Regions from separate parts of the Homo sapiens genome. Here region 2 is linked to region 1. Evidence: fine-mapped expression QTL. A gene starts in region 1. The other region holds a variant in brackets. All regions are shown on one strand. Distances are between the middles of the regions. Region 1 holds the start of SLC28A3 (solute carrier family 28 member 3). Region 2 has its middle 9.3 kb from the start of SLC28A3-AS1.

What was found. PIP is the estimated chance that this variant, and not a neighbour inherited with it, causes the effect.
Region 2: its variant is the best candidate, but not a certain one, in a credible set for the expression of SLC28A3 in fibroblasts (GTEx, PIP 0.53).

The regions. Positions count from the first base shown.
Region 1 is chr9:84,337,898-84,343,280 of GRCh38, forward strand. SLC28A3 (solute carrier family 28 member 3) reads right to left here and starts at 2,861. Exons shown (of 18, transcript NM_001199633.2): 1 at 2,677-2,861. The coding sequence starts at 2,736.
Region 2 is chr9:84,266,217-84,271,599 of GRCh38, forward strand. No RefSeq gene overlaps it. Among named protein-coding and RNA genes, the nearest start is that of SLC28A3-AS1, 9.3 kb to the right of the region's middle. The variant C/T (reference allele first, on the strand shown) is at 3,339.

The DNA of each region.
Region 1 (5,383 bases):
TCTCTCTTATAACCCATATCACTGACTTTGTGCTCCTGTTTAACCTTTCCCACTGGAGTACTAGCTCCATGAAAACAGCAATTGGTGCTCCCTTCTTTGAGGAACAGTCCAGATGAGAGCCTGTCCAGGTAATCCATAGATATGCATAACCATTGCACCTGCACCAGGTCTTACAGGCACAGGCCTTTTGGGAACCCATATCAGCATTTCAAGCTGTGAAAGTAGTTCTACTTAGTAAAATTAGAACTTTGGTCTACCAAGGGCACTCTTAATATTTGAAGAAGAAAAATGAATTTCTAGCACAATTCACAGACTAGGACAAGGTGAATAAGTAAGCATCCTAACTTATTTGGAAGTCCTGGTGGCATGTTAATGCATATTTAATAATGCGAGTGAAGTAGCACATATTTTACAATCAATTAATTTTCCTTAAAGAAGATAATGTAGCAGGAGAGCTGAATGTCAAACAAGGTAAGACTCATACTTATTAACTTGGCAGGAGTTATGAGGCCTCTGATTCTCTTGAAAGACAAATTGTCTTCACTATTTTGATTTTGAAATGTAGAAATTCAAATTTCAATCAATCCAATGAGTAAGGATGACAGGAAATTTTACAGAACTAGGAGGAAGCTTCCTTTCATTTTTCCTTCTTTTTATTGGGGCAGGTGTAGGGGGATGTTTCCCCCACAAAACAGCAGTTTTGCTAGAAGACAGTGAGGGATCACCACCGTTGTGTGCCCTCCTCCCTGGGAGCAGCCAGTTGCTGTGACATGGACCTTCTCTATTGCAGATATATTTTCTTGCTGCCATACTTCCTCTGACTCTATCCAATTCCATCCTTTCCATTCTCTGGAATCAGAATGGGCCCATGCTTTATGCTTTTCCCCCTCACTTAGCCCTTAGAGAAGAGATCAGGATGTGCCACCCTCCAAATGCCCACATTTTGGCACAAGAATATTTTGAACTGAAGGCTATGAAAAAGAAAGCAGACACAGAAAGAGCTCTCTGCCCTCCCCCATCCCCCATCTTCCTAAAAGCAGCACATTTATTGATATTTCCCTTGCACAGGTGTCCCGCTTGCTCATACAAGGAAGAGAGCAACCCTTATCACCAAAGACAGAGATGCCGCTGAGATAAATCTGCATGAACAAACCTCGATAAATTAACCCTTATCTTCCATTATTTCCACCTCCCACCCCCACTTTATTGTCCCTAAAAGCATAACCCTCTTTTCCTTTGTCTAGTCATTTCACTATTTGCCGTGCTTTGTTTTAATGGTATATAAGCTCCTGAGTCTATTAGGTTTTTCCGTTTCTTTTATGTGAGGCTCTCATACATGTGAGATTTTATTTTATTATTATTATTTTTTTGAGACTGAGTCTCCCTCTGTCAACCAGGCTGGAGTACAGAGGCACGATCTTGGCTCACTGCAGCCTCTGCCTCCCAGATTCAAGTGATTCTCCTGCCTCGGCCTCCCGAGTAGCTGGGACTACAGGCATGTACCACCATGCCCGGCTGATTTTTGTATTTTTAGTAGAGATGGGGTTTCACTATGTTGGCCAGGCTGGTCTCAAATTCCTGACCTCAAATGATCAGCCCGCCTCAGCCTCCCAAAGTGCTAGGATTACAGGCATGAGGCACCACTGCCAGCCACATGTGAGATTTTAAATATGAATAAAATTTGCGTGCCTTTTCTCCTGCTAATCTGTTTTATGTTGGTTTAATTTGCAGGCCTCAGGCACTCAACCTAAGAGGGTAGATGAAGTTGTTTCCTCTCCTACACTTGTGACCTATAAGTGGTAACCCGATGCCTACTCATGGAGATGGGCATCACTGTGACCATGGGACAGATGATCAAACTTGGGCTCTGGGAAGTTACAGGAATTTGTGGGTGCTGGAGTCTGAACTCCTGTCAAAGCCCTTTTACCTCCCTCTTTCCTTTCTTGGCTAGCACCTCAAAGTTTTGTTTTGCCCATCTAGCAGACCGTAAAGTCCAAGGGATTGTTGACACTTGCCGGTGCAGGCTTCCCATCTTCTCCAGAGCGCCCATGCTGAGTGTCAGCTAAGGAAAGGAAGCACACCTAAAAACAGCCCTGGAAATCCCCATCCCAGACCCAGTCAAAATAGCCTGGTGTTTCTGACAGGTCTCCTTCTATGTCTCTGCGGGCACCCAGCCTCGGGCTGAGCAGCATTAATCACTCAGTGAGTTTTGGTTGATGAAGTGAGACTGATTTGCGTAATCCAGCTGCTCTGGGGCAGGTACCGGGGCCATCTGACAGGGGCTCCAGGACTTGGCTTGAGTAAAAGGAACCCTGAGACACTACCCCAGCCAGGATCTAAATTCCCCCATTTTTCCCTTCTCACCAGTTCTTTGGAAAAGTGCCTGAAGATAAATAATGGACCCCTGCTGTGAGCCAGAAGGGAAAAAAGGCAAGAGAAGAAGGCTGTCTTGTTTCTAAGTGACCATAGGGATCACAACACATCGATTAAAAGAGACTTTTCAGGTTTGTCAACCCAGAAGAGCCCAAGAAGAAAAAATAATGGGCTTAAAGTGTGCCGTTAAAAATCGTATTGTCCTGATAATCTCCCTGCTTAGGTAAGAAACTTGCCAAGGGGCTAAGGAAAGGGCAGCTTTTCCACTGAAGGCCTTTAACATAAGAGGAAAGCTCTGCTCACCTGGAAGCCCACGTTGCTGTAGCCCTCAGCTCTGGGGGCTGCTGTACTCCTCAGCTCCATGCTCTTTTTGCTGCTGGCTGGCTCTGGTCTGGAGGTCCTTTGTACCTGGGAAAAAGCACCAGTCTCTGCTGATGTCAGAAAGCCACCTGCTGTTACAGGGACCTGGGCACAGCTTGCTTCAGTTTGGAAACTTCTGCAATAATCTCCTGAATGACTAGGGCTGACACCTGGTTGGGGTGGGGCAGAGAGGCGGGCGGGTTGGCGGGGTGGAGGCATCTAGTGCTGGCCCGCCCACCTTATTAATCTTTTCCTTTATCCCCATTTTTGGCATCCTATTTGCACTCCTGGGGAGAAAACTCTTGTGGTGCACAAAACAGAAAAGGACACTTTCTTTTTCTTTCTTTCTTTCTTTTTTTTTTTGAGATGGAGTCTCAAAAAAAAAAAGGCTGGAGTGCAGTGACGCAATCTCGGTTCACTGCAACCTCTGCCTCCCAGGTTCAAGCAATTCTCCTGCCTCAGCCTCTCAAGTAGCTGGGATTACAGGTGCATGCCACCACACCTGGCTGACTTTATTTTTAGTAGAGACGGGGTTTCACCATGTTGGCCAGGCTGTTCTTGAACTCCTGACCTCAAGTGATCCACCTGCCTTGGCCTCCTAAATTGCTGGGATTACAGGCATGAGCCACCGTGCCCAGCCAGAAAAGGACACGTTCTCTATAGTGCTTAGTGAAATCCTCTGTTTTCCTGTGGGTGGTGTTAAAGACTAGGAGTGGTGGTGGGGTGGAGGGTGAGTGAACACAGGATATAAGGTCATGCCGCCCTCAGTGATCACCTACTGTATACCAGGGATGGATAGATGGATAGATACATAGACAGATAGGTAGGTAGGTAAGGGTCTTGGCTCTTCTTCCGAACAACTCAAAATTCTATACTGAAGTACAGAAAAGTTAACAATTTGTTTAGTGTCATTTAGCTAATAAAGGGATAATGAGAATTCAAATTCAAGTTTGGTTAATTCCAAAACCTTTTATTACATCCCTGCTTCAGACTGGGCTGCTTTCAAAAATCCAGCTTACAGAAATGCCGATATGTGACAAGTAAATGAAAGGTGACCAGCTATTCAATTATCAAAAGTGAATAGAAGTGCTTTGTTTTCATAAAGCAATTCACTTTGCTTTATGAAAATATTAGCTGTAGAATTCTTTTAAAATAGGGATTTTCCCCCCTAGTACAATTTAAAATACTGCAAAACTGTGGACAAAAGAATGGAAAAGGCCTGGTGCGGTGGCTCACGCCTGTAATCCCAGCACTTTGGGAGCCCAAGGCGGGTGGATCACTTTAGGCCAGGAGTTCAAGACCAGCCTGGCCAACATGGCGAAACTCCATCTCTACTAAAAATACAAAAATTAGCCAGGAGTGATAACGTGCGCCTGTAGTCCCAGCTACTCGGGAGGCTGAGGCGGGAGAATCGCTTGAACCCAGGAGACACAGATTGCAGTGAGCCGAAAACGCACCGCTGCCTCCCATCTGGATGACAGAGTGAGACCCTGTCTCAAAAAAAAAAAAAAAAAGAAAAGAAAAAGAAAAAGAAAAAGTAAGAAAATACCAAGTATTATGAGTGGTTATTTCTCGGTTTTTAATTTTATGGGCAGTTGGTGTTTTTTTTTTCTCCTTCAAATGCTGCTGAGTTTTCTATAAAGAGAATGATTTACTTTTATTATTGTTAACCTAAAGGAAAAAACGGAGACAAACTTAATGTAAGTATAGAGTTTATTTGGTCTAAGTTTGAGATTGCAACTTGGGAGCACATATTCAAGTTGCTCTGAATATACACTTAGTAGCAGTTACAAGTAGATTCTTGTGTGTGTGTGTGTGTGTTCTGTTGCCCAGGCTGGAGTGCATGATCATGGCTTGCTGCAACCTTGACCTCCTGGGCTGAAGCTATCCTCCTGTCTCAGCCTCCCGAGTAGCTGGGACTACAGACAGGTGCCATCACCCATGGCTAAATTTTTTTTTTTTTTTTGGTAGAACTGGGGGCCTCACTATGTTGCCCAGACTTGTCTTGAACTCCTGGGCTCAAGCAATCTTCCCACCTGCCTTGGTTTCCAAAAGTGCTGGGATTACAGGCACTGTGCCTGGCCACAAGTGAATTTTAAAGGAAAAGAAGGAGTTTCTGAGTTGTTTACCAATTATTTACATTAAAATAACATAAGCTATTGATTGGCTATACATTGCTATTTGTATCACACATTCTAGGAACAGAAAGGCAGCCAGTCAGGAACAAAATTCCTTTAAAACAATTGCCCCTGGCCAGGCACAGTGGCTCCCGCCTATAATCCCAGCACTTTGGGAGGCCGAGGCAGATGGATCATGAAGTCAGGAATTCGAGACCAGCCTGGCCAACATGGTGAAACCCTGTCTCTTCTAAATACTACAAAAATTAGCCAGGCATGGTGGCACATGCCTGTAGTCCCAGCTACTTGGGAGGCTGTGGCAGGAGAATTGCTTGAACCCAGGAGGTGGAGGTTGTGGTGAGTCGAGTGGAGGTTGTGGTGAGTCGAGATCACGCCACCGCACTCCAGACTGGGTGACAGAGCAAGACTCCATCTCAAAAAAAAAACAAAAGACAAAAAACAAAAGCAAAAAAAAATTGCCCCCGGGCACAGGGTTGAGTGGTGACTGAAGTCCAACCCTCCGTTTCTCTGGG
Region 2 (5,383 bases), 72 kb before region 1:
TGCATCCTGATCCCTGTCTGTCAGTTTCCAGGCTAGCGACTCTACGTTCACCTGTGTCATAGCAACAGGAGAAAACTGCAGTTGACTTTCGCTTTCCAAATGTCTTGGAAACAGGGCTTTCAATTCTAAACCCCAACTTCCACTCTACGGTTTCCTGGTACGAAGCTGTTTGGACTCTGGGAGTTGGTGGCTTGAGAGAAACAGGAAGGGAGGGGAGATTCTGGGACATTAGTATATTCATGGCAGGTGTGTGTAAATTGGAGCTGTCAGTTTGACCAGCAGGAAATAGAAAGTATGAATCTTAGGGGAAGGGAGTGAATCACATTCACAAAGACAGCTTGAAAAATTGGCCAGGAGGCAAATGACAAGTTCTCCACTCTATATGAAATATCAAGATTAAAGGAAAATCAATTATCCTTTACCTTTGAGCGTTTTTGGGGGTTATGGTGAAATTAGGACTAGAGGGAGTAAGCAATGGTAGCCTTTAATTTTTCCTAATATTTTACTATAACAAATTTCAAACATACGGCAAATTCGAAGGAGTTTTATTGTGTAAATTTAGATTCTATCATTAACATTTTACCTGATTTATCACTTATTGTTTATCGTTGTTGTATATTCCTCTATCCTTCTATCGATACACCTTAGTTTTGGAAGTAGTTTTGATTTTAGTATTCTGATTATTCTTTCTTTCTTTCCTGTTTTAGTGTTTATTACCCTCCTTTTGTCTTCATCCACCCAAAACCATCATCTTTAATGATTACAACAAAGAACATGATAATGATAACAAAAATTTGTTAAAGCTACATTTGCTGAACATATACTATATGACAAGCACAGTACTAGCTACTTTTCTTATATTATTATCTCAATATTTTTCAGAATAGGAGGAGATATAATTATCCCTCTTTTGATAATAAGGAAACAGAATCTCAGAGATAAGTGGCTAAACCAGGATTCAAACCCAGTCTTGTCTGGTAATTTGCTTTGGCAAACAAGTTTCAGGGGATTAATGGCCCTAGGAATTTCATTTCAAAGTAGGTTAGTGAACAACTCACTAAAACCACCTTAAACCTATTATGGAGATCATTGATAAAATCATTATCTGCCTTTAGTTTATGTAAAGGAGCCTTTAGTTCAGAGTGGAATGAAAAAGCTAATCTTTGAACCATGATTATCTGTGAACAATCTGGGTATCTGCATTTCTTTGTATGAGAGTGAAGTAGGCAAAATTTTCCGCAGAAACTTATTGAACTCTTCTATGGGCCAAACATTACACATTCATTTAATTCTTTTTTTCTTTTTTTGAGACGGAGTTTCGCTTTTGTTGCCCAGGCTGGAGTGCAATGGTGCGATCTCAGCTCACCGCAACCTCCGCCTCCTGGGTTTGAGCGATTCTCCTGCCTCAGCCTCCCGAGTAGCTGGGATTACAGGCATGCGCCACCACGGCTGGCTAATTTTTGTATTTTTAGTAGAGACGGGGTTTCTCCATGTTGGTCAGGCTGGTCTCGAACTCCCGACCTCAGGTGATCTGTCCGCCTTGGCCTCCCGAAGTGCTGGGATTACAGGCATGAGCCACCATGCTTGGCCTCATTTAATTCTTAAGGCCAGTTCTCTCAGGTAGATATTATAATCTTCATTTTAAAGATCAAACAGTTAATGTTCACTGGAGCAAACAGACAGACCAATAGAACAGAGCAGAAAGTCCACATAATCCCAATACAGGGGACTTAATGATAAAAGGGATGACAGTCATCCCTTGGTATTCCTGGGGGATTGGTTCCAGGAGTCCCCTCAGATACCAAAACCCCAGGAGGCCATAAAATGGCATAGTATTTGCATATAATGTAGGCACATCCTCCGGTAAATCATCTCTAGATTACTTACAATACCTAATACAATGTAAATGCTATGTAAATAGTTGTTGTACTGTATCATTTAGGGAACAATGACAAGAAAAAAAGTCTCTACATGTTCAGTACAGACATAACCATTGCAGGCCTAGCTACATTTTCTATTCAAGGTTGGATCCAAGGATGCAGAACCTATGGTTACTGAGGCCAGCTGTACCAGTATTCAATAAGTGATATTGGGACAACCATCTAGAAAAAAATGTAAAAAAAAAAAAAAAAAAAATCTGAAGCCATATCTCACACCATTTAGGAGGACAAATCCCAAATGGATCAAAGACAAATATGAAAAGTGAAACCACAAAAGTTCTACTAGAAAGGATGAGAAAATTTCTTTATGACTTTAGAGTGGGGATGGCTTTCCTATGACACAAAATCTAGAAGCCATAATAAAAGAGATTGATATATTTAAGTATGGAAATTTTTTTTGTTTGTTTGAGACAGAGTCTTGCTGTGTCTCTCAGGCTAGAGTGCAGTGGTGGGGTCATGTCTCACTGCAACCTCCACCTCTGGGGCTCAAGCCATCCTCCCACCTTAGCCTCCTGAGTAGCTGGCACTACAGGCGCTTGCCACCAAGCCTGGATTTTTTTTTTTTTTTTTTTTTTTGTGGAGATGGGGTTTCACCATGCTGGTCTCCAACTTCTGGACTCAAGCAATCCTCCTGCCTCTGCCTCCCAAAGTGCTAGGATTATAGGTGTGAGCCACTGCTCCTGGCCTAAACAGATAAATTTACTTTACATGTGGAAACTTCTACATGGCAAAAAAGAACTACAAAAAAATAAAAGTACAGATGGCAATATGGAGGAAATATTTGCAATTCATGCCACAGATAAAGTGTTATGCTTCCTAACAGATAAATAGCACCTATTAATGTCTGAGGAAAAGACAACCTTACCAATACAGAAATGAATAAGGGTAGGAATAGACTGTTCAAAGAAGAGGACAGGCAAATGGCTCTTAAACATGCAGAAAGATGTCCAACCTCATTAAACAAGAGAAATGTAAATTAAAACAACACTGAGGTACCATTTCCTTTGCATTTTATAAACTAAAAGTTTAGTTAAATACTGCACTGTGTATGGTTGGTGGAAATATCAATTAGTCAAATCTTCATGGAGGACAAGTTGTCAATTTATTTCAAAATTACAAATGTACATGCACTAAGTTTCAGCAGTTCCATTTCTAGCAATTTCTCCTTTATAGGAGAAAATTTTGCCTACTTCACTCTTGTGCAATATACTCGTATAGTCACACCTGTGGGAAGCGACATAGGTAGAGGCTATTCACTGCAGCATGTTTTTTTTTTTTTTTTTGAGACGGAGTCTCGCTCTGTTGCCCAGGCTGGACTGCAGTGGCGCGATCTCGGCTCACTGCAAGCTCCGCCTCCCGGGTTCACTTCTCAGCCTCTCCTGTAGCTGGGCCTACAGG[C/T]GCCCGCCATCACGCCCGGCTAATTTTTTGTATTTTTTTAGTAGAGACGGGGTTTCACCGTGTTAGCCAGGATGGTCTCAATCTCCTGACCTCGTGATCCGCCCGCCTCGGCCTCCCAAAGTGCTGGGATTACAGGCGTGAGCCACCGCGCCTGGCCACTGCAGCTTTTTTTTGTTTTGTTTTTGTTTTTTGTAAAATATGGGACACTAAATAAATAGACTATGAAATAAATTATAGTAGAGGCATGTGATATATACAAAAGAATGAAGAAAGTTTTTATGTAGTGATTTGGAAAAAGCCCTAGGATATGTTAAACAAACAAACAAACAAACAAACAAAAAAAAGAGCAAGGAACAGAACCATGTATAGAGTATGCTGCTGTCTGTGAACCATGAGTACAGGGAGTTTACCCTCCTCCCCGCAAAGGAGAATCTATGGTTGCCCCTGTGGGTAAGCTGATGGTGTAGGACACACAGTTCTGGATTCAGCTTTTGCTGGTGAAATTGCTGGCTATCCCCTGATTGGGTAAACAAACCTAATTCCTCAGAGATCTACACAGTGCTCACCCCTCCCCAGCTGTCAGCCTTGTATCCAACTGTACTGGTACCATAATTTTTGATTCTCTGAGGGCTAGGACTTCTCTTTTCTTCCTGGACTCAGGGCAAGGATGGTCGGGCAAACTTGCTTTTGTCTTATTCATACCCAAAGCATCTGTGTTGTCAGTGTAAAAGGCTACTGAAGACATAAACCGTTTATAGTTCCAACACTGCAACTAGAAAATTCATCTTTAATCCAATGAGGATAACCTGGTATGTCATTTGCCAAAGGTTGTTATTAATACAAAGTGGATGCCAGTGGTTAGTGTATGAAATCACACATAAGCCCAGGCTTGCTGACTGGTTTCAACTACCATCTTTTTATTTAAGTGGACAGATATAACTGGGTGTCTTTGTTGTGTACAATGTCAGTGACTTTCTTCCTTGCTAGCAGAATCTGAGCTTTTGAGTACTGGAAATAGTCTGACTTTGTATTGGAAATATGTTATCTATTCCATGATTGATCATTTGGTTTTGTCCAGAGGCCTGGCATAAGATAGGAAACATGCTGTTGGCAGACAAATCTCTATGTGTCTCTGCACTTTTTGTATGTCTCGCGAGAAAAAAAATCATCACTAGTCATGAATTTGTGCAAGTATTTGACTACAATATTTATTGCTCATTTGTTAATAGTCATAAAATATAGGAAATATCCATGATGGCCAACCATAGGGGATAAGTTAAATTATGGTTCCTCATATAATGGAATGCCCTTCAGTGATTTTAAAATGATGATGTAAAAGAATATTTAATGTGGGAAAATGTTCTTGACATACTAAAGGGGAGGGGGAAAAGCTTCCTCAAAATAAATCACAGTAGTGTGATCTCATTTAAAAAGTGTTACACATACATACGCACACACACACACAGACATCGAATGGCGATACATCATGGATTATTAGCACTAGATATATTTTTGTAATGGGACATGGGTAAAGTTCTTATTTTCTTCTTAAAATGATGAATTTTTCTACAACAAATATGATTACGTTTGCAATGAAGCATTTTGCAAAAGCTATTATAAAAAGAGGAAGAGGTAAAATGCCTTCCTGAGTGCCTCTCCTAATCTAGTTAGCGAGACAACACAGGATATTCTGGAGCCACCTCCAGATTCCAAATCTCTGCCTTTGTCCTCTCAGGCCCATACAGATCCCCAGCCAGTTGCTGGGGAGACTATCGGGATCTGTGCGTTTCCTTGCCATTCATTTCTGGTCGCTGTCTGTGCTATACACCTCAGCAGAGGCACAGGTAAAAACCTTTAACCTGATTAAAATTCCCCTCAAGCATATTCCTGGTATTACTGGTAAGAGGAAGGAGAACGCATTTCAGAAATTAATTTCATCCTCATGTCATCAGAAAGGCCAGAAAAGAACAACCCCCTCCCCACCCATTTTAAATGCAATTTTGATTGGATTCTTTCTGAATACTTCAGTGGCTTTTGAGAAACAA